Linked DNA regions of Homo sapiens: all the other regions are linked to region 1. The links come from fine-mapping of genetic effects on gene expression. A gene starts in region 1. Each other region holds a variant in brackets. All regions are shown on one strand. Distances are between the middles of the regions. Region 1 holds the start of NDUFA2 (NADH:ubiquinone oxidoreductase subunit A2). Region 2 overlaps LOC105378198 (a long non-coding RNA gene). Region 3 has its middle 20 kb from the start of PSD2-AS1.

The links. PIP is the estimated chance that this variant, and not a neighbour inherited with it, causes the effect.
Region 2: its variant is fine-mapped to the expression of NDUFA2 in whole blood (TOPMed, PIP 0.90).
Region 3: its variant is fine-mapped to the expression of NDUFA2 in monocytes after LPS (Fairfax 2014, PIP 0.95).

The regions. Positions count from the first base shown.
Region 1 is chr5:140,642,053-140,652,364 of GRCh38, reverse strand. It overlaps NDUFA2 (NADH:ubiquinone oxidoreductase subunit A2), which reads left to right and starts at 4,735. Exons shown (of 3, transcript NM_002488.5): 1 at 4,735-4,882; 2 at 5,003-5,109; 3 at 6,687-7,080. The coding sequence starts at 4,782. The coding sequence ends at 6,778. TMCO6 (transmembrane and coiled-coil domains 6) reads right to left here. Exons shown (of 12, transcript NM_018502.5): 4 at 10,312; 5 at 9,946-10,050; 6 at 9,694-9,779; 7 at 9,324-9,440; 8 at 8,690-8,801; 9 at 8,399-8,585; 10 at 8,171-8,265; 11 at 7,625-7,792; 12 at 6,961-7,380. The coding sequence ends at 7,267. It overlaps IK (IK cytokine), which reads right to left and starts at 4,536. Exons shown (of 20, transcript NM_006083.4): 1 at 4,441-4,536; 2 at 3,828-3,894; 3 at 559-651; 4 at 218-277. The coding sequence starts at 4,456. MIR3655 (microRNA 3655) reads right to left here and starts at 4,521; the gene lies at 4,439-4,521. RefSeq lists enhancers at 4,462-4,997, 4,738-5,157.
Region 2 is chr5:140,749,249-140,759,560 of GRCh38, reverse strand. LOC105378198 (a long non-coding RNA gene) reads right to left here. Exons shown (of 4, transcript XR_001742904.2): 4 at 1,481-1,603. Among named protein-coding and RNA genes, the nearest start is that of PCDHA1, 32 kb to the left of the region's middle. The variant G/A (reference allele first, on the strand shown) is at 4,436.
Region 3 is chr5:139,761,036-139,771,347 of GRCh38, reverse strand. It overlaps a transcript of PSD2 not described here. Among named protein-coding and RNA genes, the nearest start is that of PSD2-AS1, 20 kb to the right of the region's middle. RefSeq lists enhancers at 7,051-7,714, 7,715-8,377, 8,378-9,041. The variant G/AGAAAGAGAGAAG (reference allele first, on the strand shown) is at 4,520.

The sequences.
Region 1 (10,312 bases):
TCTAGGTTATCCACCAAGAAACTAGCGAAGATGAGATTAAAATATAGATAGGCCTATTCCAAAGCCCTCTACTGCCACTCTAAGTATCACTCTGTTTCATTAAGAAAGTAGAGAGCCTCAAGACAAAATCTTAGTTTCTAGCTTCATAATTAGCCCCTACTTCTTTCCCCTAAACACTATCCACCTTAAAATCTAAAACCCTTCACCCTTCCTTCACCTTTTCTTTTTCCTCCTTCGTGCAGCTGGGTCTTCATCCTCATTGTACTCCCTTGGCATCCTAGAAGAGACGAGAAATTCACTGATAGCAAAATATTGCCACAGCCCCAGAAACCCCAAGAAGTCTCCTTGAGGATTTTTAGAAAGACCTAGAATACTGATCAAAGTAACACTTTCAATCAAGCAGAAATCCACACCAATATTTGTAGGTGGGCAGTTCTCAAACTTTAGAGAGTATCATAAATACCTGAGGGACTATTAAAAGTCATTCTACTTAGTAGAAAGAAATAGGAAGGAGCAAGAAACAAGTTGGGAGACAGGTTGGATCACCCAAAGACTTACTCATGGTGACGTGACTTAGAAGGTGGTGCAGAGGTAGGTGCAGCCCTGGGGGTCATGAGAAGTTTCCTGAAGTCTTCATTGGTGAGTTTTGATCTAGAAGAAAAGGCAAAGATTTTAAATATTAGGACTCAATAAGAAATGAAAAAGGAACAAGTAAAAATCATGATTAAATTAACAGAAATCAGGGAAATACAAATTAAAACAAAGATATGACACTGTTTTTTTTTTTTTGAGACGGAGTCTCACTGTCACCCATATTGGCCAGGCTGGTCTTGAACTCCTGACCTTGTGATCCACCCACCTCGGCCTCCCAAAGTGCTGGGATTATAGGGATGAGCCACCGCACCCAGCTTTTTTTTTTTTTTTTTAAGACAGAGTCTCCCTCTGTTGCCCCGGCTGGAGTGCAGTGGCATGATCTCAGCCCACTGCAACCTCTGCCTCCTGGGTTCAAGTAATTCTCCTGCCTCAGCCTCACAAGTAGCTGGGAATACAGGTGCCCGCCAACACACCCAGCTAATTTTTGTATTTTTATTAGAGGTGTTGGCCAGGCTGGTCCCAAACTTCTGACCTCAGGTGATCTGCCCACCTCAGCCTCCCAAAGTGCTGGGATTATAGGTGTAAGCCACCACGCCCGACCAGATATGCCATGCCACTTTTAATGCATCAGAGTGTTAACTACCAGAAAGTTTGATAAATCAAGTGTGAGTGAGAATTTGGGAAGGGGACTCTCTCATATAATGCTGATGAGAATGTAAACCAGTATAACCAATTTGAAGGGCAATTTTGCAGTATTTGTTAAAATTTAAGTATATATATCCTATGAGCCAGCAACTCCATTTATTTATATTTAGCCTGGTCCATTACTGACATATGTATATAAGAAGGCCTGTAAATTTAATTCAGTTATAGCCTTGAAAATAATCAGTCTGGCCGGGTGCAGTGGCTCACACCTATAATCGCCGCACTTTGGGAGGCTGACGCAGGCGGATCACCCGAGGTCAGGAGTTCAAGACCAGCATGGCCAACATGGTGATATCCCATCTCTACTAAAAATACAAAAAAATTAGCTGGGCGTTGTGGTGGGCGCCTGTAATCCTAGCTACTCAGGAGGCTGAGGCAGGAAAATCGCTTGAACCTGGGAGGCGGAGTTTGCAGTGAGCCGAGATCTAGGTATTACACTCCAGCCTGGGCAAAAAGAGCAAGACTCTGTCTCAAAAAAATAAAAAAAAGAAAAGAATCAGTCTGAAACAGACTAAGCGTTTATTAGCTGGAGACTGACTAAACTATGATGGTGTTTCCCAAAGAGGGAAAGACAGCACTAATGGTACAAGAGATTATTTTAATTGGTACACTAACAAAGACTCCTCTCTTGATCAAATTAAAGTCAGACTCCTTTAAAGCTCTCTTCTGACTAGGGCTCTTCCTTGGCCTGCTGACCTCAGTTTTAAAAAGGAATCCTAAGTCAGTTCACAGAAAGTTTTCCCACTCTTGATATCCAATCCAACTTGATATCTAATCAAGTTCCTCTTCTCCCCAAGGAAGACTTTATTGAAGACTACTGTAACAAGAGTCAAGACCATTGTAATAGAGTAGAGAGACTGAACTTAATTCCGAATACAACAGGGACAAGTGAGAATTTATAGAAAATTACTAAAAGCAACTTGGTTAGGTATGGGGGTGGAGCGGTGGTTGATTTCTTTGTTAAAACTGTGCTCAGCAGGCCACGGATGAGTCCTGCTGAAAAATGGGACTCTTTGGGGAACCTGACTAAAGTTTAGCCAAGGAGGGAATGCTTGTCACTGCTCTGAAAGATAATCTCAGAAACACTGAGCAGGGTTTAAAAAGAAGCAAGTTGCAAAAATGATATATACAGCATAATATCATTTAACTCAAATATTTTAAATCACAAAGCAATGTTGTGTTTTCCTCAGATATGCATGTATGTGTATAAATGCATTTAAAAAAGAGTAGGAGGGCCAGGCGCAGTGGCTCACGCCTGTAATCCCAGCACTTTGGGCCGCCGAGACGGGCAGATCATTTGAGGTCAGGAGTTCAAGACCAGCCTGGCCAACATAGCGAAACCCTGTCTCTACTAATACAAAAATTAGCCAAGCATGGTGGGGCATGCCTGTAATCCCAGCTACTGGGGAAACTGAGGCAGAAGAATTGCTTGAGCCCAGGAGGCAAAGGTTGCTGTGAGCAGAAATAATGCCATTGAACTCCAGCCTGGGCAACGGGAGGAAAAGATATGCCAAAAAAGGTAACTGTGGTTACTTCTAAGAAAAGGACTGAGGCTGGGCACGGTGGCTCACGCCTGTAATGCCAGCACTTTAGGAGGCTGAGGCGGGTGGATCACTTCAGGCCAGGAGTTCAAGACCAGCCTGACGAACACAGTGAAACCCTGTCTCTACTAAAAATACAAAAAAAAAAATCAGTCGTGCATGGTGGCACATGCCTGTAGTCCCAGCTACTTGGGAGGCTGAGGCAGGAGAACCGCTTGAACTCAGGAGGCAGAGGTTGCAGTGAGCCAAGATTGCATCACTGCACTCCAGCCTGGGTAACAGTGAGACTCCGTCTCAAAAAAAAAAAAAAAGAAAGAAAAGAAAAGAAAAGAAAAAAAAAAAGAAATGGACTGGAATTGGGGATGTTATCAAAGATGATTTTATCGGGGGCCAGGCACGGTGGCTCACGCCTGTACTCCCACCACTTTGGGAGGCAGAGGCGGGTGGATCACCTGAAGTCGGGATTTCAAGACCAGCCTGATCAACATGGAGAAACCCCATCTCTACTAAAAATACAAAATTAGCCGGGCGTAGTGGAACATGCCTGTAATCCCAGCTACTCGGAAGGCTGAGGCAGGAGAATTGCTTGAACCCGGGAGGCGGAGGTTGTGGTGAGCCGAGATCGCACCACTGCATTCCAGCCTGAGCAACAAGAGCGAAACTCAGTCTCAAAAAAAATAAAAAGATGATTTTACCCTTATTTCCTATGTTTTAATTTGCTATTGGAAGAAGTAATTCCTATATAATGTGTAATTACACAACACGTATAAAAAAAAAAAAAAACTTAACACCTTTCCTGCAGGAATTTCCCTTCTAATACCCTTATGCACTTGGCCTGATCCAGTTAAGGCTCACAGAGATAAAGGGCCAGCGGGTATAATTTTTTACCATCCTTGATGACAAGACATTCAGAATTCTTTCACCATCACCACCACTTTTCTATTCATTGCCCAACTCATTTCCATGGTCCTAGCACAAAATACTCACTGGTGGAAGGAGTGAGGATCATCCACATCGTGGCCATCGGGGGCCAAAGGGTTGGAGAACGGCTCACCTGACAAAAAAAATTGACGTTAATTTAATCAGTCTCTTACGTGTCAGATCCTATGCAAAAATTTGAGATATAGTAGTGAACAATACAGAACAAAAGTTAGAACAGCGACAGTGTCAACACAATGTAATAAGTGCTGAAATAGGAAACTACAAGAAGCTGTGGGAGCACAAAGCAGAGGACCCTAATCCTGCGCTGGAGGATCAGAGAAGACTTCCGGAAGATCACGTCTAAAATACTACGTAAAAGATAAATACGCGCAACCCAGGATTAAGTATGGGGACAGGACTGGGGGAAAGCGATCCACGCACAAAAGCCGCCCATCATCACTTGGAGTAGGAGTGAGGACTGGGGACGGAGTTTGGAGCTGTCGGCCTCACTTAGGACCCTGTGGCTTCTCCGGGCTCAAGCGTCACACATACATACATACACACACACACACACACACACACACACACACACACACCCGGCTTAAGCTCAGAAGCTACAATAATGCGCCAAGTGCCCCAAGTGCCATGGGGAAGAAATAACGGATGGCCTGAGCCTTACTATCTCGCTCCGGCATTTTGTTATCGTTCTTTCGCTGTCACCAACAATCGAGTCTCCAACAGCAACACCGCAGCGACAAGCTCTTTCCCACAGTGCACCTCAGAATCAACCCACACTGCTTTGCGTTCGCAGCCTTTCCGCTTCCTGTTTTTCCCTCCGACCAACCCCGAGCGCAAAGAAATTGACCTCGCAGCGGTCCTACAATACTTTTATATCATTGGCCAAGCTTTACCCCGCCCCTGCCTCATGCAGCCTATGGGCTAGGCTTTAGGGTCCGCGGTTGGTCAGACCGGAGCACTTGGCCTGAAGACCTGGAATTGGCGACTTCGATATTAACAAGGATGGCGGCGGCCGCAGCAAGTCGAGGAGTCGGGGCAAAGCTGGGCCTGCGTGAGATTCGCATCCACTTATGTCAGCGCTCGCCCGGCAGCCAGGGCGTCAGGTGAGGCGCGGCGTGGTGAGGCGGGCGGGCTTCGGGACGCCAGGGTCACGACCTCGACCTCCCTGAAGTTGAGGGAAGCCCCCGCCCACAGCACGCGCGGCGCTCTCTCCGGCCCCGCAGGGACTTCATTGAGAAACGCTACGTGGAGCTGAAGAAGGCGAATCCCGACCTACCCATCCTAATCCGCGAATGCTCCGATGTGCAGCCCAAGCTCTGGGCCCGCTACGGTGAGTGCGGGACGCCAGGGGTCTGGGGCTCCGGTAGGGGAACAAGGGTTTGAGAAGAGAAGGGACCGCCCAAGGTCGTGCAGAAACCCGTGGAGAAACTAGAACTCGGACTTTAGCCTTGCTGTTGATCTTGTTTCCATGAAGAAATTTATATTCGCAGGGTTATATGATGCGTTGTATTCCGGGCAACATAAGTATGCAGGCTGACCGAATCCTGCGTAGGGACCAGGAGCTGACGTTTTTGTAGTTAAGAATGGGCTTCAGACAGGAGAGAAGTTAGTCAATATAGTTTCTCCAAATAACGTGTAGCCAGTGTCAGTCCAGGTAGTGTGTGAGAATCTCAGTAATTTTGCACATAGAGCTGGGCCCTGTGCTGAGTGCTTCCCTGCCTAACTCATTTAATCTTCATTAGTTAGGAGGAAGCGTGTTCTTCTTTTCTCACTGTAGAGATTAGAAAACGGAATCAAAACTTTGTTTTGCACTATTGTTAAACTCTAGCTGCAACTTTAGATGCAGCTAGAGTTTAACAGGATTGAGCCTTTACATTTATTCCCCTTCCTAGAATGCACTTACCCCTCTAAGACTGGCATGGCAATGTATTGCAAAATGAAATTTTCCTATCATGTTGCCTAACACATTGTAGGTATGCAATAAATGTTTATACATACTGAATAACAGGATTTTAATCACAGCTTTTAACTATATGGTGCCCTGGGAATGACGGGAGGAGGTGGAGGAGAGTGACCACCTTAAGCAGATTGGTTCTCAGAGTAGATATCTGTGAGACACAGTAGACATTAGACATGCACTAATAATTGGAGAAGGAAAAAAGCTTCTCCTTCCAAAAGCCAGTAGACTACAGGAGGAGATAGACACGAGTAACTTTAGTGTATTGTGCTGGGTATTATGTTAGATAGCCTATGGGAGCCTAGAGAATGGGTACCCAGCTGGGTGCGGTGGTTCACGCCTGTAATCCCAGCACTTTGGGAGGCTGAAGCAGGTGGATCACCTGAGGTCAGGAGTTCAAGACCAGCCTGGCCAACATGGTAAAACCCCGTCTCTACTAAACATACAAAAATTAGCCGGGTGTGGTGGCGGGCACCTGTAATCCCAGCTACTCAGGAGGCTGAGGCAGGAGAATTGCTTGAACCCAGGAGGTGGAGGTTGCAGTGAGTGGAGATCGTGCCACCACACTCCAGCCTGGGTGACAGAGCGAGACTCCGTCTCAAAAAAAAAAAAAAAAAAAGAGAGAGAATGGGCTCCCAGCTGAGGCTGGACCCATGCAATACATTGCTCACCGTAGTTAATAATAAATGCCTACAGTGCCCCCGAAAGCTTCCCTGAAACAACCCATTGCGGCCATCCAGAATCAGCCAAAATTCTATTTGGACTTGGGCTTCCTAGATGTGTTTGAGACCTATTGTATTAATTCTAGGCATACCAAATGTATTTTGATCATATCTCTTTAATACTCTTCCTGTCTTAACAAGACTAAGATAAAGACAAAGATCTTTTATTTTACTTTGGTAGCCTCCAGGGTGCAGAATAGTTAAAGACACCTCCCTCTCTCTCTTCAGCATTTGGCCAAGAGACGAATGTCCCTTTGAACAACTTCAGTGCTGATCAGGTAACCAGAGCCCTGGAGAACGTTCTAAGTGGTAAAGCCTGAAGCCTCCACTGAGGATTAAGAGCAACAGCCCCAGAGCCTGGGCTCTGCTGGACTTAGTATAATGTGAAAAAAATGTGTTCTCCTATTCCTCATAAAGCTTGTGCTGTAAAATACTTTCTCAGGGTGTTCTTGTCCTCATCTACCCTCTACCCCTTACTGTGCAACCACTGAGGCAAAGTAGCTTAATATAAAAATAAAACTTTATTCTGTCTCATCAAAAGCTACCAGCTGCTGAAGCAAACATGAAGGGTGGCGGGGGGGCAGGGATTCTAGGGCCCCAGAGTAAGTAGACCACACTGAGTCCCTTTTGGTCCTCCTGCCTGGATAGTGCTGAGTGGAAGGGGAGGAGCTGGGACCCAAAGGTCTTGGCTTAGGTGTGGGAGCAGAGAACATGAGACCTCATTATGGTCCTAAATCTCCAAAGGCTCTACTGGACAAACAAGCTTGATGTTAAGAGAGAGGGGAATGAGTGACATTGAGAAACAAGATCACCCTTGAAGAGCTGTCTGCTGGAGAGCATACACACGATCCTGGAGCTGGGCCTCTTCCTGATGCCTTTCCAGGGCTTGCAGCCCTGACTGCTGCAGGAAGACCTGAACAGCCTAGGGGCAGGGAAGAAAATTCAACACACCTGGTCTCTGTGTCCTAAGACTCAATTCCCACAGCCTCATGGGTCAGCCTACTCCAGAGGGTGCATTCCCCAACAAGAGGATGAAGTTTCTGACATGGAACCTATATAGGTTAGCCAGGCCCAGAGAAACAACTATAGTTAGGACTGGATGGGAAGGGAGCCACTGTGTGGCTTCAGAACAGGGGTGACTGAGGATGTGGGCCAGAAACCTATACCTCTGGCTGATACAGGAACAGCAGATGCAGCAGCTCCAAACTCTGGCCTACTACTTCAGTGTCAGAAAAGGCTAGTGTGTGCAGCAAGGCGGGAAGCAGGGGCCCTGGCCACAGCCGCTGGCAGTAAGCAGGACCCTTTTCTGCAACATTGCACAGAACTGTGAGCACCTGCAGATAGACACATATATAGTCTACAAAGAATGAAACACAAAGATCATAACAATAGCTAAAATATATGACATGGTGACCACATGCCCAGGCACCATGCCAAGCTCTTCTACATACATGTTCTCATACTCCTACAACTACCCTATGATGCAAGATTATCCTCAGTTATAAGTGAGGAGACTGAAGCTTAAGGTGGTTAGTTGATTTGTCCAAGGATAAATAATCCAGTTTAAGGGACACACACCTAGATTGGTTGGGCCCTGAGGCCACACACCACCACCTGCTGGCTCTCAACTAAGGGTACATCTGAGGGCTCAGGACTGCTGTCCCATACAATCCGACTACCAGATCTTGGATTCAAGTAACCCCAATACATACCATTACGCTCACCACGTTAGATACTGGCAACAGCTGTAAGAGAGGCTCAATCAGATCCAGGGAGAGCAAGGAGGTACAGAAACTAGGACTGTTTGCTGGAAGAGAAGTACCAGGGTGAAAAACTGCTTTCCCCCACCACCCCTGTCAATACTACCCACCTCAGCCTAGGCCATGAGGAAATATCCCCATTATCCAAATGTCCAGGCCTGGGCAGATTATGGTGCGTACCAGTGAGGTTGTTGAGGAGCCAAAGGCCCTCAGGGAGCAGACTGGGCTGTTTCTGGAAAAAGAACTGCAGAAGGATAAATAAGGCTGCCACAACACGCTCATCTCTGAGCTGCATTTGCCCTCCCACAGTCTCCACTGCTGCCTCAGTTAGCAGGTTGCTTAGACATCGAAGCACGGGGCATGCCAGCTGCAAAGACAAATTGGGGGGTCAGGTGTAAGAAGGAAGAGGTTACCTGCATTCCAGAGTATCAAGAAACATCTCCCAGAATTTCACCTGACATCTTCACCTACCAGCTCCAGTCCTGCATCCTCGGTTTTCTGGACAGCCCCAGCCAAGTCCAACAGCAGCAACCCCAGAGTAGACAGAGCCCCATGGCCAATGAGCAGAGGATTGCTGACCTGGCTGGGCAACAGGAAGCAAGCAGTCCCTAGGTATATAGTCAATTCCACCTTTAAGAAGAGAAGCAGTTGCCTAGGCGTGGTGGCTTATGCCTGTAATCCCAGCACTTTGGGAGGCTGAGGTGGGTGGATCACCTGAGGTCAGGAGTTTGAGACCAGCCTGGCCAACATGGCGAAACTCCGTCTCTATTAGAAATACAAAAATTAGCCGGGCATAGTGGCACGCATCTGTAGTCTCAGCTACTCAGGAGGCTGAGGCAGGAGAATCGCTTGAACCCGGGAGGCAGAGGTTGCAGTGAGCTGAGATCGCACCACTGTACTCCATCCAGCCTGGGTGACAGAGTGAGACTGTCTCAAAAAAAAAGAGAAACAGCTAAGGTCTGTGGGTCTCCTGGGCTCCAAAAAGAGAAGACAGTGGAGGGAGGAAAACTCACTATAGCAATTCCAGACACAAGTTCAAAGAGTTGAATGTCATGGAAGGGAGCCCCAGGGAAGATCTGTGGTACTTTCCCAATTGCCCTGTTACCTGCAGATGATGTAATGAAGGCACCAGGCAAACTCCACAGCGACCCCAGGGTTGAGCTTTGGGCCAGGTTGCAACATTTGTAGCATGTGCTGAGGGAGAGTGGAGGCCAAGATGGAGCTGCTGGCAGAAGCAGGGCTGTAAGTAGGAACCACGAAGATGCCAGTGGTTCTTACCAAACCCTGATAGCAGGTGGGAGAGTGTCCAAACCCAAAGCCCTGCCCAGATGGGAAAGTGTCCAAACCCAAAGCCCTTCCTAGCCAGACACATGAATTTAAAATGTGCAACAGCTTTGGAAATCATTCAGGCATCCGGGAGCTATACTACTGAGTGGGTCACCTCTGGCTGCACATCTAAAGACAATTTTACTCACGGAATGATCTTCTCTGGAGCTTCCTCAGCCTGTAGAAGCTGGGACAAGGCATATCCGAGAGCTTCCAGCACAGCCACATGGGGGGACTGGAAGTAGACAGGGTAAGGATCTGACTGGAAGCTGGGTCATCAGGTCTTCAGAGACTTTCAGCCCCTTGGCACAGGGCAGAGGCTGGAGCTACCTAACCAAAGTAGATGGAGCATGTGGGGAGGAGCAAAGGAAGGGTTGCCCAGGGAGGAAGAAAGGAGTCACCTGGATGCAGGCAGCCAAGGCTGGAACAATGCCCTGTGGCAGGAGCTGCCTTCTCACAGCCTCACTCTCCACGATCAGGTTACCCAGTGTATACAGACACAGCTCCTGAGAACAGGCAACAAAAGCACTGGGCTTGGCCTGTTTCATGCCAGGCTGCGTGTGGGGAGATGGGGAGGGGAGGTGATGGGGACGCTGGAGCAGCTATCCTTGCGGCTCACAAGAGGGTGGGGAGATGATGGGTGTAGCCATGGCTGTAGGCATAAGGGCAAACATGTTTTCTTCCTCCTACCTGCCAGCTCAAACTGGTCCCAAAAGCACAATTTTAAAATCTAAACCAAGAACAAGATAGGAAGGGACAGGGCTTACT
Region 2 (10,312 bases), 110 kb before region 1:
AAAGCCAAAATTGACAAATGGGATCTAATTAAACTAAAGAGCTTCTGCACAGCAAAAGAAACTACCATCAGAGGGAACAGCCAACCTACAGAATGGGAGAAAATTTTTGCAATCTACTCATCTGACAAAGGGCTAATATCCAGAATCTACAAAGAACTCAAACAAATTTACAAGAAAAAAACAAACAACCCCATCAAAAAGTGGGCAAAGGATATGAACAGACACTTCTCAAGAGAAGACATTTATGCAGCCAACAGACACATGAAAAAATGCTCATCATCACTGGCCATCAGAGAAATGCAAATCAAAACCACAATGAGATACCATCTCACACCAGTTAGAATGGCGATCATTAAAAAGTCAGGAAACAACAGGTGCTGGAGAGGATGTGGAGAAATAGGAACACTTTTACACTGTTGGTGGGACTCTAAACTAGTTCAACCATGGTGGAAGACAGTGTGGCGATTCCTCAAGGATCTAGAACTAGGAATACCATTTGACCCAGCCATCCCATTACTGGGTATATACCCAAAGGATTATAAATCATGCTGCTGTAAAGACACATGAACACGTATGTTTATTGCGGCACTATTCACAATAGCAAAGACTTGGAACCAACCCAAATGCCCATCAGTGATAGACTGGACTAAGAAAATGTGGCACATATACACCATGGAAGACTATGCAGCCATAAAAAAGGATGAGTTCGTGTCCTTTGTAGGGACATGGATGAAGCTGGAAACCATCATTCTGAGCAAACTATCACAAGGACAGAAAACCAACACCGCATGTTCTCACTCATAGGTGGGAATTGAACAATGAGAACACTTGGACACAGGAAGGGGAACATCACACACTGGGGCCTGTTGTGGGGTGGGGGGAGGCGGGAGGGATAGCATTAGGAGATACACCTAATGTAAATGACGAGTTAACGGATGCAGCACACCAACATGGCACATGTGTACATATGTAACAAACCTGCACGTTGTGCACATGTACCCTAGAACGTAAAGTATAATAAAAAAAAGAAGCATAAAGATCAATAAATTTTATGTCAGCATTACAAATGAAGTGGAAAGATGGAAGATTCGGCCAATTAGGTATTACCATAAAATATATATATGGGGTGTGTGTGTGTGTGTGTGTGTGTGTGGTATGTGTGTGTATACACCATAATAATCAAAGGTGGACTCCAAGTAGATTAAACACAATATGGAGGTAAAGCAATAATGTTGATAGAAGGAAATATAGGGTGATACCTTTAAAACATAGGGGCAAGAAAGGACTTTTAAAATGAAACTTCAAACATAAGGCAAAAACAAATACATAAATCTCATTATAATTGTGTATTCAAGAGTATGTATTAAGCACTTCTTATGTGCTAGGCACTAAGGCTGTATATTAATAGTACATATAGATTATAAATACCACTCGTCACTAAAAGGAAACAGGGCTTTTGGGAGAAATTACTCACCTCAGGATAGTGGTGACAAAAGTGCAAGAAGAAACGAATATCTGTTTTTTCTTCAGAAAGTAAGAAACTGCTCAAAAATTATGGGAATACTTGTAAAAACACCACAGGAAACATGTGAAGGGTCTCCCACTGGAAAAATATGATACAGTTTGAATACCACAGTGAATAATGACAGTAATGCATTATAACAAAATGCATAAAACAGAATCCATATAATAATGACTAATAATGGATACTAATGAATACATTAATATGAACAGATGTAAATATGGCTTAAACAGGGGTAGGGGAAATGGGAACATTTTTTACAGAAGAATGCCAATTAATACATGTAGAATAAATGACCATTTGAAAGTTACTATTTTTTAATCATCATAGGAATAATTGATTCAGACAAGAATCTTCAACAAATACTAAAACATTGGGGTAAAAGCTTATTGGTGATTAGTTTCAATGTATCTCCCTACAAATTAGTTATTAATTACAAGGAAAAAATGGTATATTTGCAGTTGAGAAACTTGGTGAACATAACACTAATCAAGTTACATCACCAATAATGAGACAAACTGACATTATGTATCTTCCAATGTGCTATACTGAGAAGTCATAATATTAATTTCTGCTGCGATTATAAGGAAATAATCAGACAAGCTAAAACTCAGGATCGTTCTATAAAACTATTGGTTTTTGTACCCTTTAAAATTTGTTAATATCTTCAAAAATAAAGAAAAGCTAAGAACCATTTCAGATTAAATAGGGCTAAACAGACCTAGGAACTAAGTGCAATGTGTGATTCTAAGTCAGAGAAAAAAATTCCATCAAATATATTATTTGGAAAATCTGTGAAACTTTAATATGGGCAGCATATTAGATAGTCAAATTATAATAAGATTAAATATTCTAATTTAATCATCATGCTGCCATTTTGAGGTGTATATTCTTGTTCTTGAGAGTTACATGCTGAAGTGTTTCAATATGAGGTAAAAGGATTTAATAGCTGTAAAATTCTTTTAACATTGTAAAAAGCATTTAACAATTAACATTTTACCATACACAGTCTTTCTCTGTGTGTGAGTGTGTGTGTGTATCTATAGATAGATATAAATAGATACAGATCTATTCCATATATCTCCAAATGAATATACATAGTGAGAGAGAGAAAGAATGTGGCAAATGGTAGCTTAGATTCACCAACTATATAAACGTTCATTGTCCTGTTTTTGTAAGTTTTCCATGGGTTTGATATTTTTCAACATTTGAAAAAATATTCATAATCTGATTATTTTATTTTCCCCACCGCTGCCACCCTGGTCAAAATTATTATAACCTTTCATTGAGGTCACTGAAATAGCTCTTATTGTATCCTCCTGCTTTTACCCTTTCCTCCTACATCATATTTCTAATATGGCAGCCAGAGTAATCCTTTAGCCACATCACTCCTGTGCCAAAAAGAGTAGCTCTAGCTTCCTATTTCCCTCAGGAAAGCAAAGACTTACAGTGACAAAGAAAACCCAAGTTATCTGTTTCTTTTATTACCACCTTGGCCTCATTTCCTCCTAATAATTATTATCTCTCTGATCCAAGCACACAGACGTCTCTGCTACTCCTTGAACACAATAAGCATTCTTCTTCCTTAGGGCATTTGCTGTAGTTTTTCCCTCTGCCTTAAATGTTTTACCCCAAGAAAACAGCTTGGCTAACTCCCTCACATCCTTCAAGTTAGATATAATTTCTTAATGAAGTCTATCCTGATTATTCTATATAGCTCTTTAATATTGTGACATTCATCCCATCTCTCACAGATTTCTGATTCTCTTAATCTGTTCTACTCTTTCATTATGCCAAAGCACATTTTATCTTCACCTTAATGAATATAATTTCATGCCACTGCACTTCAGCCTGGGCGACAGAGCAAGACTCTGTCTCAAAAAAAAAAAAAAAAAAGAATTTCCATGCAAATGGAGACTGTAAGAGAGCAAGAATAGCTGTACTTACATCAGATAAAATAAACTTTAAGTCAAAAACTCTAAAAAGAGACAATGAAAGTCATTATATAATAATAAAAGTTCAATTCAGCAAGAGGATATAACAATTGTAAATACAAAAGCATCCAATATTGGAACACCTAAATATATAAAGCGAATATTAATAGATCTAAAGGGAGAACAAGACTGCAATACAATGATATTAGGGGGATTTGCTATCCATTTTCAGCAATGGACAGGTCATCCAGACAGAAAATCAACAAAGAAACTTCAGATTTAAACTGCACTGTAGACCAAATGGACCTAGCAGACATTTACAGAACATTCCATCCAACAGCTGCAGAATACACATTCTTCTCAACTGTACATAAAATATTTAACAGAATAGATAATATGTTAGGCCACAAAACAAGCCTTGACAAATTTTAGATTGAAATCATATCAATTGTCTCTTCTGACCACAATGATATAAAACTAAAAATCAATAACAGAAGGAACTTCAGAAACTTTATACATTCATAGAGAGTAAATATGCTCCTGAAAAACCAATGAGTCAATGAAGAAATTAAAAGACATTTAAATATCCCTTTTGGACAAATAGAAATGGAAACACAATGCACCAAAACTTATGGGATACAGCAAAAGCAGTTCTCAGAGAAAAGTTTATAGCTATAAACACCTACATTCAAAAAGAAGAAAGGTTTCAAATAAAGAATCCAACATTATACCTCAAGGAACTGGAAATACAAGAACAAACTAAATCTAAAATTAGGAGAAGGAAGTAATAAAGGTCATAATTTAGGTGAGATGAGGTGGCTCACGCCTGTAATCCCAGCACTTTGGGAGGCTGAGGTATATGGATGACTTGAGCACAGGAGTTCAAGACCAGCCTGGGCAACATGGTGAAACACCATCTCTTCCAAAAATGAAAAAAAAAAATAGCCAGGCGTGGTGGCAGGTGCCTGTGGTTTCAGCT[G/A]CTCAAGAGGCTGAGGTGGGAGGAACTCTTGAGCCTGGGTAGTAGACGTTGCAGTGAGCCAACATCACACCACTGCATTCCAGCCTGGGTGACAGAGTGAGGCCTCGTCTAAAAAATATCAGCATATAAATAAATGAAATAGAGGCTTGAAAAAAATACAAAAGAGCAACAAAATTAAGAGTTGGTGTTTTGAGAAAAAATAAAACCAGCCAACAGTTAGCTAAACTACCTAAGGAAAATAGAGAGAAGACAAACAAAACAATAATGAAAAAGGAGACATTATAACTGATACCACAGAAATAAAAAGGATCATAAGACATTATTATACAATTTTACACCAACAAATGGAATAACCTAGAAGAAACAGATAAATTCCTGGACACATACAACCTACTAAGATTGAATTATGAAGTTATAAAAAAATTTCAAGAGACCAATAATGAGTAAGGACATCGAATCAGTAATAAAAAGTCTCCCATCAAAGAAAAGCCCAATACCTGGTAGTTTCACTACTGAATTCTACCAACATTTAAAGAAGAATAAAAACCGGGCGCGGCGGCTCATGCCTGTAATCCCAGCACTTTGGGAGTCCAAGGCGGGTGGATCACGAGGTCAGGAAATCGAGACCATCCTGGCTAACACGGTGAGATCCCGTCTCTACTAAAAATACAAAAAATTAGCCGGGCGTGATGGCGGGCGCCTGTAGTCCCCGCTACTCGGGAGGCTGAGGCAGGAGAACGGCGTGAACCTGGGAGGCTGAGCTTGCAGTGAGCCGAGATCGCACCACTGCACTCCAGCCTGGGAGATAGTGCAAGACTCTGTCCCAAAAAAAAAAAAAAAAAAAAAGAAGAAGAATACCAATTATTCTCAAAATATTTCAAAATACTAAAGAGGAGAGAATACATTCAAACTCATTCTGCGAGGCCAGCATTACTCCGATATCAAACCTGAAAAAAAGCCCCCAATTACTCCAGGGGAAGGAGCAAGTTGAACTGGAAAGGAGCAACCTGCCCTCACCACATGCCTCTGGAATCTGGGCAGGAGGAGACCCCTCAACCACCATGGACACTTGAGTTGGCAGGGAGAGCTGCTTAGAGAAGTGGTAGGGGAAGCACTCCAGCTGGTGCAGAGCCCAGAGGGTTTGTTGTGGTAATGTCTGTAGTGAAGCATAATCAGGGATGCCCATCCCCCTAGGCTTGATTTGCTCCCATAAGAGACTTTAGCCCTAGGGGAACTGTTGGACATGAGCTCTCAGGGCAGTCTTGCCCACCAAATGAGGCCAGTCTGACGTGAGCACCCCTTTGCCTGCTGACCTCTCGCAGGGCCCCAGCCTGGCTGCACCTGCTTGCAATGCAGCCTCGAGTGCCCTCGGGGGGCTGCATCATAGCTCCTGCGCTGGCAGACTGCACCAGCCCACCCACTCCCTCCCCTCACTCCAGGCCCACAACCACCCCTATATTGCTGGAGTATATGTGCATGGGTGGATTTTACCTTCCCTGTCCTACCAGCATGTGTGTGCCCATGAACCCTCTGCTGCCACTGCTGCTGGGGTAAGTGCAGTCCACTCCACCACCTCCCCCATCATACTTCCACTGTAGTCAGAGTGCAGCCCAGCCACCACCAGCACCCTGCCCCAGCACCAACATTGTCACCAGAGTGAAACTAGGCAGAGAAGAGTGGACCCTCCACTGCCCTAAGTGACCACCTCCACCTACATGAAAACACACAGAAGGTGCACACAGTCCTGCACCTGCCAGCACCTTGCCCCCATGCTAACACCACCACCAGCAAACCACACACGCAGTCAGTCACCAGCAGGGACCCCAACCCCTGAGCCATGCTGTCTCTGCCACTGTTATGAATGCCCGAACACCCATGAGCACCAGGCTACAGCCAATAAGCATGTACCCTGCCATGCTGCTTCTGGCACATGCAAATGAGGATGGACCCCGCTGCCACTGCCTTATGAAATGCTTTGACTGTCACCACCTGTAGGAATGCTGAAACCAAAGATGCAGGAGCACCTCAGTCTACCCAGTGCAGTGAGTTCCTAACCTCAAGGAGCCAGAAAACAAAGTTGGGGTCCAGTATTGGTCCCCTAGAGTTAGAGCACGTAGTCCAGGAGTTGTGAGCTGAGCCTTGGCCCCCTGAAATCTTCCAGAGACAAAGCCGGTCAACTGAACCCACCTTATACCACAATCAAACCCTTGAGGTCATCAAATGGGATAAAAGAAAAAACCCATCAAAGGACAGCAACTTCAAAGATTGAAGAAACATCAGCCCACAAAGATGAGAAAGAACCAGCACAAGATCTGACAACTCAACAAGTGAGAATGCCTTTATTCCTCCAAACGACTGCACTAACTCTCCAGCAAGAGTTCTGAAAGAGGCTGAAATGACTGAAATGATGGAAACAGAATTCAGAATACGGATAGGAATGAAGATAATCAAGATGCAGGACTACATTGAAACACAATCCACAGAAGCTAAGAATCACAATAAAACAATGCAGAAGCTGCCAGACAAAATAGCCAGTATAGAAAAGAACATAACCAACATGACAGCTAAAAAAACACACTATAAGAATTTAAAAAAAAAAAGAATTTCATAGTGCAATTGCAAGTATTAATAGCAGAACAGGCCAAGCTGAGGAAAGAATGTCAGAGCTTAAAGACTAGCTTTCTGAAATAAGACAGTCAGACAGTAATCAATAAAAAAAGAATGAAAAGGAAGACGAAGACCTCTAAGAAATATGGGGTTATGTAAAGAAACCAAAGCTATGATGTATTGGTGTCCCTGAAAGAGATGGGAAGAATGGAACCAACTTGGAAAACATATTTCAGGATATCATCCATGAGAACTTCCCCAACCTAACTAGAGAGGCCAACATTCAAATTCAGGAAATGAGAGAACCCCAATAAAGATAGTTCATAAGAAGATAATCCCCAAAACACATAATCATCATATTCCCCAAGGTTGAAGTGAAAGAAAAGATGTTAAAAGCAGTTAGAGAAAAAGGTCAGGTCACCTACAAAGGGAAGCCCATAAGACTAACAGTGGACCTCTTAGCAGAAACCCTACAAGCCAGAAGAGATTGGGAGCCAATATTCAACATCCTTAAAGAAAAGAAATTCCAACCAAGAATATCATATCCACCTAAACTAAGCTTCATAAGCGAAACATAAGTAAGATCCTTTACATACAAGCAAATGCTAAGGGAATTCGTTACCACCAGACCTGCCTTACAAGAGCTCCTGAAGGAAGCACTAAATATGGAAAAGAAAGACCATTACCAACCACTACAAAAACACACTCATGTACACAGGCCAGTAACATTGTAAAGCAACCACACAAACAAGTATCTATAATAACCAGCTAACATGATGACAGGATCAAATCCACACATATCAATACTAACCTTGAATATAAATGGGCTAAATGCCCCAATTGAAGGAACAGAGTGGCAAGCTGGATAAAAAAGCAATACCTAAAGGTATGCTGTCTTCATCTGACCATCTCACACACAATAACATCCGTAGGCTCAAAATAAAGAGATGGAGGAAAATCTACCAAGCAAATGGAATCAGATAAAAGCAGGGGTTACAGTCCTAATCTCATACAAAACAGACTTTAAACCAACAAAGATCAAAAAAGACAAAGAAAGGCGTTATATTTTGGTAAAAGATTCAATAAGAAGATCTACCCAAATATGTATGCACACAACACAGGAGCATCCAGATTCATAAAGCAAGTTCTTAGGGACCTTCAAAGAGACTCAGACTCCCACACAATAATAGTGAGAGACTTCAACACCCCGCTGACAGTACTAGACTAAGCATCAAGTCAGAAAATTAACAAAGCTATTCAGGACCTGAACTCAGCACTGGATCAAATGGACCTGATAGACATCTAAGGAACTCTCCATCCAAAAACAACAGAATATACATTCTTCTCATTGTCACATGGCACGTACTCTAAAATCAACCATACAATTAGATGTAAACCAATCCTCAGCAAATGCAAAAGAACTGACATTATACCAACTACTCTTATACCAACCACAATGCAATAAAATTAGAAATGAAGACTAAGAAACTAGCTCAAAACCATACAATTTCATGAAAATTAAACAAACTGCTCATAAATGACTTTTGGTTAAATAATGAAATTAAGGCAGAAATCAAGATGTTCTTTGAAACCAAAGAGAACAAAGTTACAGCATACCAGAATCTCTGGGACACAGCTAGGCAGTGTTAAGAGGAAAATTTATAGCACTAAATGCCCACATCAAAAAGTTAGACAGGTCTTGGCTGGGCACAGTGGTCCATGCCTGCAACTCCAGCACTTTGGGAGGCTGAGGCGGGTGGATTACTTGAGGTCAGGTATTTGAGACCAGCCTGGCTAACATGACAAAACCCTATCCCTACTAAAAATACAAAAATTAGCCGGGCATGGTGGTGTGAGCCTGTAATCCCAGCTACTCAGGAAGCTGAGGCATGAGAATCACACGAACTCGGGAGGTGGAGGTTGCAGTGAGCCAAGACTGCCATTGCACTCCAGCCTGGGTGACAGAGTGAGACTCCAACTCAAAAAAAAAAAAAAAAAAAAGAACTACAGTACTAGGAGCAAACCAACCCCAAAACTAGCAGAAAACAAGAAGTAACCAAAATCAGAGTTGAACTGAAGGATATTGAGACACAAAAAACCATTCAAAAGATCATTGAATAAACAACAAGAAAAGAACAATGAATCCAGAAGTTGGCTTTTTTGAAAAAATTAATAAGACAGGCCACTAGCTTGACTAATAAAGAAGAAAAGAGAGAAGATCCAAATAAACACAATTAGAAAGGACAAAGCGGGTATTACCACTGACCCCCCAGAAATACAAATAACCATCAGAGAATATTATGAATGCCTCTATGCACACAAACTAGAAAATCTAGAAGAAATGGATATATTCCTGGATATATACACCCTCCCAAGAATGAACCAGGAAGAAACTGAATCCCTGAACAGACTAATTATGAGCTCTGAAATTGAATCAGTAATAAGTACCCTATCCAAAAACAATCCCAAGACCAGATGGATTCACAGCTGAACTCTACCAGAAGTACAAACAAGAGCTGGTACTATTCCTACTGAAACTATTCCAAAAAATTGAGGAGGAGGGATTTCTCCCTAACTCATTCTAAGAGGCCAGCATCATTCTGATACCAAAACCTGGCAGAGACACACACACACAAAAAGAAAACTTCAGCACAATATCTGTGATGAGCATCAGTGCAAAACTCCTCAACAAAATACTGGCAAACTGAATCCAGTAGCATATCAGAAAGTTTATCCACCATGACCAAATAGGCTTTATTCCTAGGATGCAAGGTTGGTTCAACACATGAAAATCAATAAATGTGATTCATCACATAAACAGAACTAAAGACAAAAACCACATGATTATTTCAATAGATGCAAAAAAGGTGATAAATTTCAACTCAACTGTATGCTAAAAGCTCTCAGTAAACTAGGTAGTGAAGAAACATATCTCAAATAATAAGAGCCATCTATGACAAACCCACAGCCAACATCATACTGAATGGGCAAAATCTGGAAGCATTCCTCTTGAGAACTGGCACAAGACAAGGATGTCCTCTCTCCCCACTTCTTTTCAAAATAGTATTGGAAGTCCTGGCCAGGGCAATCAGGCAAGAGAAAGAAATAAAAGGCATCCAAATAGGAAGAGAAGAAGTCAAAACTATCCCTGTTGCAGATGACATGATCCAGTATCTAGAAAACCCCATAGTCTAGGCACAAAAGCTCCTTCAGCTGATAACTTCAGCAAAGTTTCAGGATACAAAATCAATGTACAAGAATCACTAGCAT
Region 3 (10,312 bases), 880 kb after region 1:
ACTCCTGCGCTCAGGCTATTCAGGGCCTTACCCACCACGGCGGCTCCACCACAGAGGGAGTGCCCAGGGGTGGGGCAGCCCCGGGTCCCCAGGCCCGCAATTCCTCACCCTAAAATAGAGACTCCGCCACCCGGGCCAGTCACAACATGGGACCCAGCACAAAATGAAAATGTGGAGCTTCTTGTTCAAAAAGCAGGAGGGAAATGCCTAATAATAAAGGCGCTAAAATATAAAAGTATCTATGTATCTGTACCTAGAGATATATAAAGCTTCGCTTCTTTTCTGTTGGTCTGCCTCTAGATTTGTCATGAGTTTGTATTTGTTAAATATCATTTTAAGTAAAGAAAAATGAAAAATCTAAATGACTAGCATGAATTTTACTATTCATCTTTCTATTGTGCAATGTCAGTTTTAAATGCAAATATAAGGGTGTTTAACTCATATGCAGAATCATCAAAATCGTATAATTTGTATTCAGTACCTTGTGCACACATGTGTATTTCATCTTACCTGAAATGGTGGGAAAGGGCACAAAACTTACTCAACTGTTTTCATTTCTTTTCTTGACTTATGCACATTCTCTCAACATGCTCTGCTTTTAGCTTATGATGTGTGAGGAGGGGCTGAAAGGAAAGGAACTACAGGTTGCCTGATCTGTCCCTGTCCTAGCTCATCATGATTAGTGTCAGCGGTTGGCTTATCCAGCGAAATAACATGAGGAAGAAGGCTATAGCAGGGTTCCTGGGCCATTCATGTTTTTTTGTTTGTTTGTTTGTTTTTTTGACACGGAGTCTCGCTCTGTTGCCCAGGCTGGAGTGTAGTGCCGCGATCTCAGCTCTCTGCAACCTCCGACTCCCCAGTTCAAGCAATTCTCCTAATTCTCCTGCCTCAGCCTCCTGAGCAGCTGGGATTATAGTCCGCCTGCCACCACGACCAGCTAATTTTTGTATTTTAGTAGAGATGGGGTTTCACCATGTTGGCCAGGCTGGTCTCGAGCTCCTGACCTCAGGAGATCCACCTGCCTCAGCTCCCCAAAGTGCTGGGATTACAGGCGTGAGTCACCAAGACAGGCCCTGTTCATGTTTCTTAGCACACAATTGCCTTCTTCTTGCATCTGGCAAGTTCTGGTTGAAATGGATGGTGAGGTCCCTCAGGGCTGTCAGCGTTCCTCTTACTCAGTTGTAGACATAACAAGCTTACCTTACACTCACTTTGAGTCTTGCTGAGCCCCCACATGTGGTGGGGTCATCAGAATCCTGTGCTCACGGGCATCACCAGCACTGCATGCACACAGGAGCCCCAGCCGGCCCGCATGACACCCAGGTTCTACCTCTCTGTGTACCGCATGCTCCACTGTCCCACTGGACCCCACTTACAAAACACAAGTTCAAAGATGAAATTATGAGACATTTCAAGACAGCTACAGCAGAGCATTAAGGTAAGCAGGCCCTGGTGAGCATGGGGCCCTGTGTGACCCCACGTCAATGAAGCTGCCCCACCTCCACCCTCACCGCAAGCCAGATGGAAACTTCCAAGGAGGACTGTGGCTGGCCCAACTCAGGGCACTGCCCCCCACTGCCACCATCAGTGTCTTGAGTCCGAAGTGCAATGACTGACCCAGCCTGGGTCACAAGGCCACCCATGGCCAGGTAGGAGGTGAAGGTGGGGCATCTATGACTCACTTCACCTTTAGGGAACAAAGGTGTGTCCCTGAAGGGCTGGGCAAGTGCTGGACAGATGAGAACTCAAGCCACCACAGTCCCCTGCCCATAGGTGAGGTTCAGTACAGGAGGGCAGTTCAGGCAGGGGAGAAGTCTTTATAATGAAGGAAGGTGGGAAGCCTGAGGAGCCACAAGTGCTACAGCCTGGCTGCCCCCCACAGAGGAGCTGGGAGAGATGAGGGCATAGAGGTAGCAGGTCACATGGAGGCCCTGAGTGCCCTCCATTGGGACTTATCGCACTCTGACCATGCCACCCCTGTCTAGAAGCTTCTCTGGATTTTTGCTGTCAGGAAAATACCCACAGCCCTATCCCTGAGGCCTGAGGCCCGTCCTCCTCTCCCCCAACCCCCGCCGCCACCTGCTCTGCTGCAGCCGTAGCCCTGCTTGCCCTGGGTCTTAGGCTCTGTGCCTGTTCTTCCCTTTGCCTGGAGCCCTCTTCCCACCATGCTCCTTCTTCAGACTATGCACACTCCCTCTGGGTCCTGGCATGAATATCACCTCCTTCAGGAAGTCTTCCCCAACCCACCAGGCTGGGTCACAGGCCCTGTGCTTCTCCAACATCACTGCCTGGTGACTCATCTTCCCCTACCCTCCACCAATGACAGAATTCCATGAGGGCAGGGACTGGCTCCTGTTCAGGGCAATAGCCCCAGACCCCAACACGTAGTAGGTGCTCAATAATGTTGTTGACTGAACGCATGAGTTCACAGGCTGTGGGAGTCTGGACTCTGCATGAGCTACTGTCTTGTCTTACAGATCAGACAGTTAGTCCAGGGTGGAGGGACTGAGAGGCATGATGCACCCACCATGTTGCAGGCCCGATTGGCTCTTTACATTCCTGACCTCACTTTTTTACTCCCATCCAGCCCAGGAGGGAGGGAGGTGTTGTTTTTTTTTTTTTTTTAGATGGAGTTTTGCTCTTGTTGCCCAGGCTGGAGTGCAATGGCTTGATCTCGGCTCACAGCAACCTCTGCCTCCCAGGTTCAAGCAATTCTCCTGCCTCAGCCTCCCAAATAGCTGGGATTACAGGCATGCGCCACCAAGCCCAGCTAATTTTGTATTTTTAGTAGAGACGGGGGTTTCTCCATGTTGGTCAGGCTAGTCTCGAACTCCCTTCCTCAGGCGATCCACCCACCTCGGCCTCCCAAAGTGCTGGGATTACAGACTTGAGCCACCATGCCTGGCCAAGGAAGGTGTTTTTATACCTGTTACACAAATGAGGAAACAGAGGGCAGTGAGTGGGTCACATTCTCTTTTTATGCCCTCCTCTCCCCCACTACACACATCTAAACCGCAGCCAGGGTGACCAGCCCACTGGCCTCTCAGCCTGGAGTCCAGAGGTCCTCTTTTCTTGGCCTGTCTGGGAGAGAACTCTCTCCCAGCTGGGGCCTGTCCTATCCTTTCTCCCTCCTCTTCCTCCCCCTCCCCACTTCCTTCCTTCCTGCTGTAGGATATTCCCTTTGCAGGAAAGGTTCCAGGTTCCGGGGCAAGGCCCCCAGGTTCAGCTGCCCAGGCTGGGACACGTGCTACCTCCATCAACCAGCCCCTTTGCCCTCCCTGGCGGGGGGCCAGATATCTGAGCCAGGCCCAGGGGACAGGGGAGCACTGCACAGGGGACAGCTCAAGGTCTTCTTGTCCCTCTCTCTGCCTCCAGCCCTAGCTGAGGCAGAGGACTCTGGAACTCATCCTGGTGCCCTGGGGTCAGGCACTAGACCTGGTAGGGGCTTTGTCACTCTGCCTGTGAGCTGGTCATCACTGAGAGCCTCTGAGCAAGAGCCTTACCTCTGTCAAGCTGGTATATAACCTCTTGGATTGCATGTGCTGAATCACTTTGCACAGCACCTGGCACAAAGTGAGTGCTCAGTTAACATTATTAACAGCTCCAATCATTGTTATTATTCTCTCCAATATCATCCTCATCTGACTGAATCTTTACAGCTCTCCTGGGAAGTAGGTAGAGTTTTGATCCTCATTTTATAAATAAGAAAACTGATGCTTACAAAGACAGGAGGGGCCAGATGCCGTGTCTCACATCTGTAATCCCAGCACTCTGGGAGGCCGAGGTGGGCAGATCACTTGAGATCAGGAGTTCGAGACCAGCCTGGCCAACATGGGGAAACCCCGTCTCTACTAAAAATACAAAAATTAGCTGGGCATGGTGGTGCATGCCTGTAATCCCAGCTACTTGGGAGACTGAGGCATAAGAATCCCTTGAATCCGGGAGGTGGAGGTTGCAGTGATCTGAGATCGTGACATTGCACTCCAGCCTGGGCAATAGAGTGGGATTCTGTCTTTAAAAAATAAAAATAAAAGGAAGAAAGAAAGAAAGATGGTGGCTGGGTGCGGTGGCTCACGCCTGTAATCCCAGCACTTTGGGAGGCCGAGGCAGGCGGATCACGAGGTCAGGAGATCGAGACCATCCTGGCTAACACGGTGAAATCTGTCTCTACTAAAAATACAAAAAAAATTAGCTGGGCAAGGTGGCGGGTGCCTGTAGTCCCAGCTACTCGGGAGGCTGAGGCAGTAGAATGGTGTGAACCTGGGAGGCAGAGCTTGCAGTGAGCCGAGATTGTGCCACTGCACTCCAGCCTGGGTGACAGAGCGAGACTCTGAGAAAGAAAGAAAGAAGGAAAGAAAGAAAGAAAGAAAGAAAGAAAGAAAGAAAGAAAGAAAGAAAGAAAGAAAGAAAGAAAGAAGGGAAGGAAGGAAGGAAGGAAGGGAGGGAAAGAGGGAAAGAAGGAAAGAAAGAAAGAAAGAAAGAAAGAAAGAAAGAAAGAAAGAAAGAAAGAAAGAAAGAA[G/AGAAAGAGAGAAG]GAAGGGACTTGCCCAGACTCAAACCCAGGCCAGTCAGTGCTCTTTATCACCTTACTATCCTGATGCCTACCCCTCTATTCGCCCTAGAGCAATTCTTAACCTGCTGGGTGTCTCAGTTTCCCCAGCCAGGCAATGGCGAGGATGGAGGAGGCATCTCTAAGGACCTTTAAGTCTAAGGGAACTTATTAATCCATCGAGGTGGGGCTGCTGGAATGGGCACAAAATCACAGATCTAACCATGGAGGGTCCTACAGGCCAAGGTCACCTAAACTCAGGACAGACTGCAAGAGTCTAACCTGGGTCCCTTCTGCTCTAGCTCCATCCATTTCCCCCATACACAGAGGAGAGAAAACCCCATATTGTGGGACAGGGAGAGGGTGCCCCCCACCATTCCAGGACTGCTGAAGACTGAGAAACAGGCCCAGGCAGGTGAAAAGAAGGCTAGGCGCTGGTAGACGGGCAGAGGCAGAAACAGAGTCATCGAAGGGTAGGTCCATCAACAAGTATCCCATGAAAGGCTTAGGGCCAGATAGAACTGCCAGGCCTGGAAGGGAGGCCTCACCCTACTGCCACCAATCCTGTATCGCCCCCTTCTACAAACAGCACATCGAATCACAGCTCAGATTGTAGACTTCCTGAGTTCAGATCCATCTGTTAGTCCTTCATCTGTGGACTCAGCGATCCACCCCCACCACCATTCTGCTCCGCGGTCCCTCTCCCCAGGCCCTGGTTCCACACCTCCCTACCCAATGTTCTCCCTTCATCCAGACCCCAGGCTCTCTACCCAGCCACCACAGAGGGGCCTGGCTTGCCGTCACCCCATCGCCGCCAGCTTGAGGACAGGCCCAAAAAAGGAGGACAGGGAAAGAGAGAGGGAACGAACGCACCACCCCGGGCCAGAGCGGCGTCCTCTCATCGGCCTAGGAAGCTGTACTGCTCAGCAGCCACCAGAGGGCGCGCGCCCCTTCTCAGAGCCAAAGCCACGACGGCGGCGGTGGCGGCGGACCCGGAGGGGTTTGCAGAAGATGCGGGGCAGGGGTGCGGTCACTCCGGGAGGAACCCCCCCGGAACGCAGCCGCACCCTGGGCTCGGATTCAGCCCTTGTAAGAAGACGGCCTTGGATGCTGCCCCTCGACCCTCTCCCCAGCCGCGCCCCGCGCTTCGGTCTCCTGCTGACTACTCGCTCTCTCCCCCTCCTGGCCGCTGCGAGCACTGCGGCCCGGCGGAGCTTGGGCTTGGAGGGTGGGAGGTGGGCAAGGGGGCGAATGGGGATTTATCTGGAAATAATGTGGCAAGGGGCTGCATGGTGGGAATATACTGGGCAGAACGAGATTGTAGTGGTTAGCACTAGGTGAACAGAAGTACGAAGAGGTGGGGAACTACAGTGGATGTGCAGGGTACTGGGCCGATTAATAGGAGGGCACTGGGGGCCACCGGGCAGGTACTGGGGGCAGTGGGTGGTCCCTGGGGGCTATTTAAGTGGTACCAAGCCTAAACTGGAAAGAGGGCGCTGGGTGGTTTCCTGGTGGTAACGGGGGCCCTGAGTGCATGTTGGAAGTACCACTGCGTAGGCACTGGGGGTACTGAATAACAACTGGAGACATTGTGTGCTGGGAAGAACTGGAAGGCAGTGTGAAGATAGCGAGCAGAAGGGGCACTGAGTGGGAACCAGGGGTGGGAGGGTCACGGAACCCGCAGTGGGAAGTACTGAGTGGGTCTGGGGATATGGCACAACTGAGAGGGTGAGGGGGCGTTGGAAGGGTTCGTGGCAGGTACTGGGCATTATCTATGAGAAGTGGGGACATGGGTGGACATCGGGTGGGTCATGGAAGTCACTGGGGTCACACTGAAGCCCTGGAACAGTATGGCACTTCCCTGGCTGTGCCTCAGTGCCCCTCACAACAGCGCCACTTTCACAGCCAGGACTTAGATCAGAAATGTCCCTTCGCCAGTGAGGGTATCCTGCCCTGACCAGAACCTATTCCTGCTTTCCTGGCGGGTGTGGAGGGTGCTGCTCATAGACAGAGGACAGGCTCTATTATCTACCTCCCCCAGATGAGGTGGGAAGTAAAGGCAGGTCAGCCCCTTATCCCTAGAAAATAAGGAGCCCCCTGCTCAGCCCCTCCCATCAGGTTTCGGCCTCCTGGCCCAGCTTGCTGGCTGCTGGGCCGGGAGGGGCTGCCAGGCTCGGCCTCCTGCCCACTGCGGGGCGCCGGGGGAGGGCGGCGCGCGGCTCGAGATGCCGCGTTGCCATGGAGACGCTGCCGCATCCTGACTGCTCCTGGCAACGGGGTCCCGCAGCCAGGCAGGCGCTCGGCGGGGACCCCAGGGAGCGGGCGCGCCAGGCTGCCCACGGCGCCGCCAGACCCCCGGGACACGGATATGGCTCCCCCACCCACAGGCGCCCCTCACTCACACTCCCAGGGGCACACGGATGTACGTACGCGCCCCAGCTGCAGCAGCCCAGGCGGAACTGCAGCCCAAGCCCTCCCTGCAGCCCCCACTCATTAATTCAGCAAACATTTGCTTACGGTCTCAGTGCCAGGCGCGAGCTGGCCACTGCGGTTGTGGCGGCGACAAGTCACACGGGGACGCTGCACTGCCCCCCTCCCTCCCCATCTCGCAGCCCGCAGGGGAGGCAGACACAGAAACAGTGTGATCAATACTGTGACCCCAACAACAGCCACCCGCTGACTGTGTGCTCAGCCCTCCTCATGCAGGATCTTGCCTAAACTGTAAAACCCTTGGGAAGCACTGTGAGAACTCCTTTTCACAGATGGGGAAACTGAGGCACAGGAGAGCTCATCTATTCACCAGAGGCCATGTAGTCAGGGTGAGGCAGAGCTGGACTTCCCAATTGGATCTTGGTGACTTCCCCAGACTACCTTTGCTGGAGAATTTCCGAAGCACAGATGAGGGAGGACCCAACTCAGCTGGGGAGGCAGCAGAGAGAATTTCAGACTCAAGCTCGGGTCTTGGGAGAAAACGCAAGTCGACCAGGCATAGCAAGAGGCAGGAACACTAGGCTGAAAGAACAGCTGGTGCAAAGACCTGGAGAATGTAGACTGGCAGGCTGGGTGTGAGAGCAAAGGCAGAAGATGTGGTTAGGAAGCTGCTTGGAGGCCAATCCTGGAGGCTCGCTGTGCCAGGCCGAGGGGACTGGCCTCCATTCCGAGAGGAGCAGGGAAGGTGTGAGCAAGGGAGGGCATGCCTGACTATTGCTCTGGCAACCCTGGGGGTGAGGGGCTGGCCCAGGGCAGGTGAAGCTGGAGCTAGGAGACTAGAGCACAGGCCATGGTCATCATCCCAGCAAGGGACAAGTGGGCCCACTCGGCTTGAGTCCAGAGTGGAAGTAGGACACGGCCTTCTTGCCTTCCCCGGCAAAGATCCTTCTGCCTGATTGGGAACCCAGGGAATGACCCCAGAGCTAGATGCCTGACAAGGTGGGCACCCCAGGGGGAGCCAGGGCTTAAAGACAGTGAGCGCAGTGAATGAAAACATGCTTCAGAGTGACGTGAAGAACAACTGGGCTAGACTCCTGGAAGGACTTCCCAGGAGGAATGGGTGTGAGGTTCAGAGAGAGGCCAGGAGATCCTTGAGAAGAAAAGGAAGAGTCCCACACACCTCACACATCTGGAGGGAATAGACAAGATGTTTCTTCCAGACCCCTCCTGCCAGGGTTATTCCTCCCTGGGCCCGCCCAGCAGAGCCTGTTCAGGCACCCCACTGAGGAGGCACAGCATCCGGCCCCTAACCTCCCCCTCACCCAACAAGGTTAGCCTAATTTTTTTCCTTCCGTGGATTCAGGTCATTGCTCCCTGTCCTCTCTCTGAGGCGCTGCAGAATGTGACTAATTCCCTCCCTTCATTTATGGGTCCTGTTACCTGGAAGGTATTTATAGCGCAACAGCCTCCCTCTCTCCCCAGCGACTCCGCTGCTCTCCCCCCAGGCCATCTCTCCCCACTCTGCCAACCTTTGCCTCCCCTCTCTGCTGCCACAGCCCCACCACCTCCCCAGCCAGGCCTCCTGTCCTGCCATCCCCCTGGCAGGAAAGGGGGCTGGCTCTGCCGGGAGGGGTCTGCCGGGAGGGGTCTGTAGCCTTTCTGAGTGGAGTACTGTCTGCAGGGTAGATGACCCTCCTCTCTTGGACACGCTAAAAAAGGCCATCTAGGGCCAAGCTAGAAGAGGGTGACAATTGGTTGACCCCTCTGTGACCTCAACAAGCAACCTGGTACTTCAACTAACAATAGGCAACAATTATTGAGCGCTCAGCATGGGCAATACAGGGGATACCTGGGTCTATACATAACATTTCTTTACTTAGATAGGCATTGTGGTGCACACCTGTAGTCCTAGCTAGTCAAGAGGCTGAGGTGGGAGGATCGTTTGAGCCCCAGTTTGAGGCTGCAGTGAGCTATGATTGCGCCACTGCACTCCAGCCTGGGCAACAGAGCAAGACCCTGTCTTAAGAAAAAACGAATGAAGGACTGGGCGTGGTGGTTCATGCCTGTAATCCCAACACTTCGGGAGGCCAAGGCAGGTGGATCACCTGAGGTTAGGAGTTCAAGACCAGCCTGACCAACATGGTGAAACCCTGTCTTTACTAAAAATACAAAAATTAGCCAGGCATGGTGGTGCACACCTATAGTCCTAGCTACTTGGGAGGTTGAGGCAGGAGACTTGCTTGAACCCAGGAGGCGGAGGTTACAGTGAGCCGAGATTACGCCACTGCACTCCAGCCTGGCAACAGAGCAAGACTCCGTCTCAAAAAAAAGATAAATAAATAAAAATAAAAATTATTGAATGCTTACTATCTGTCAGGCATTATTATTATCCTTGATTTACAGCTATGGAAACGGAGGCTCAGAAAGGCTAAATGACCCTCCTCAGGTCCTCATGGTTGGGATGAGGTACTCCTGGACAGCTGCCTTCCAGAGCCCTGCCTGGTATTGGGAACTCACCTTAAAAGGCAGGCAGGGTGAGGGCTGCAGACAGCCAGGGGTTCCTGACCAAAACATATATCACAAAGTCAACAGTGTCCCCACTGGTCCTAAGCCATGGATGATCTCCCTGAGCAGTCAGGAAACAGCACCAGATGGAGGCCGGTGGGCTATTTAACACTGCCTGTCGCACACACATCTCCTCCTCCAAGCAAGGGTCATGGAAAGCAGAGGTTAGGGGGTGCTGATCTAAGCCAAGGAATAAGGGAAACAGGAAATAAGGGAAACTGGTGTCCACGGAGGAGGAGTGAAGGGGAACTACAGCAGAAAGGACGGAAAGAAGACCCTGTGAGGGACTTACAGGCTTATAGGGCTGAGGCAGGGACTGGCTGCTCTTTCACATCCCCACTTCACAACTGTGCGAAGCCCCTTTTACAGCCAGAAGCATGGAGACCCTGACAGGTGAACAGACTGACTCAGCTTTGCCCAGATCCTCTGGCCAGAAATTCTACAACACTGATGAAATGATTTCTGGGAGACAGGAAAGAATGGAGGAGAAGGCTGAGTTCAAATCCCAACCTTGTGCTCACAAGCATAGTGACATTGAGCAAGTGACTTCGCCTCTCTGTGACTTGATTTTCCCATCTGTAAAATGGGCTGACATCACATCTTACTCACAAGTGGTCATGAGGACTCAGTGAAGTGGATCAGGCAAAAAACTGAGCACCAGGCCTGGCACGCAGCAGGGACTCCGAGATGTTGATGGGCAATGCTGTGGTTTGTATTTGCCCCTGAGTCTTTCTTCTCTCACACATCTTCCCTGAGACTATGGCATCTTGGGGATAAGGACTG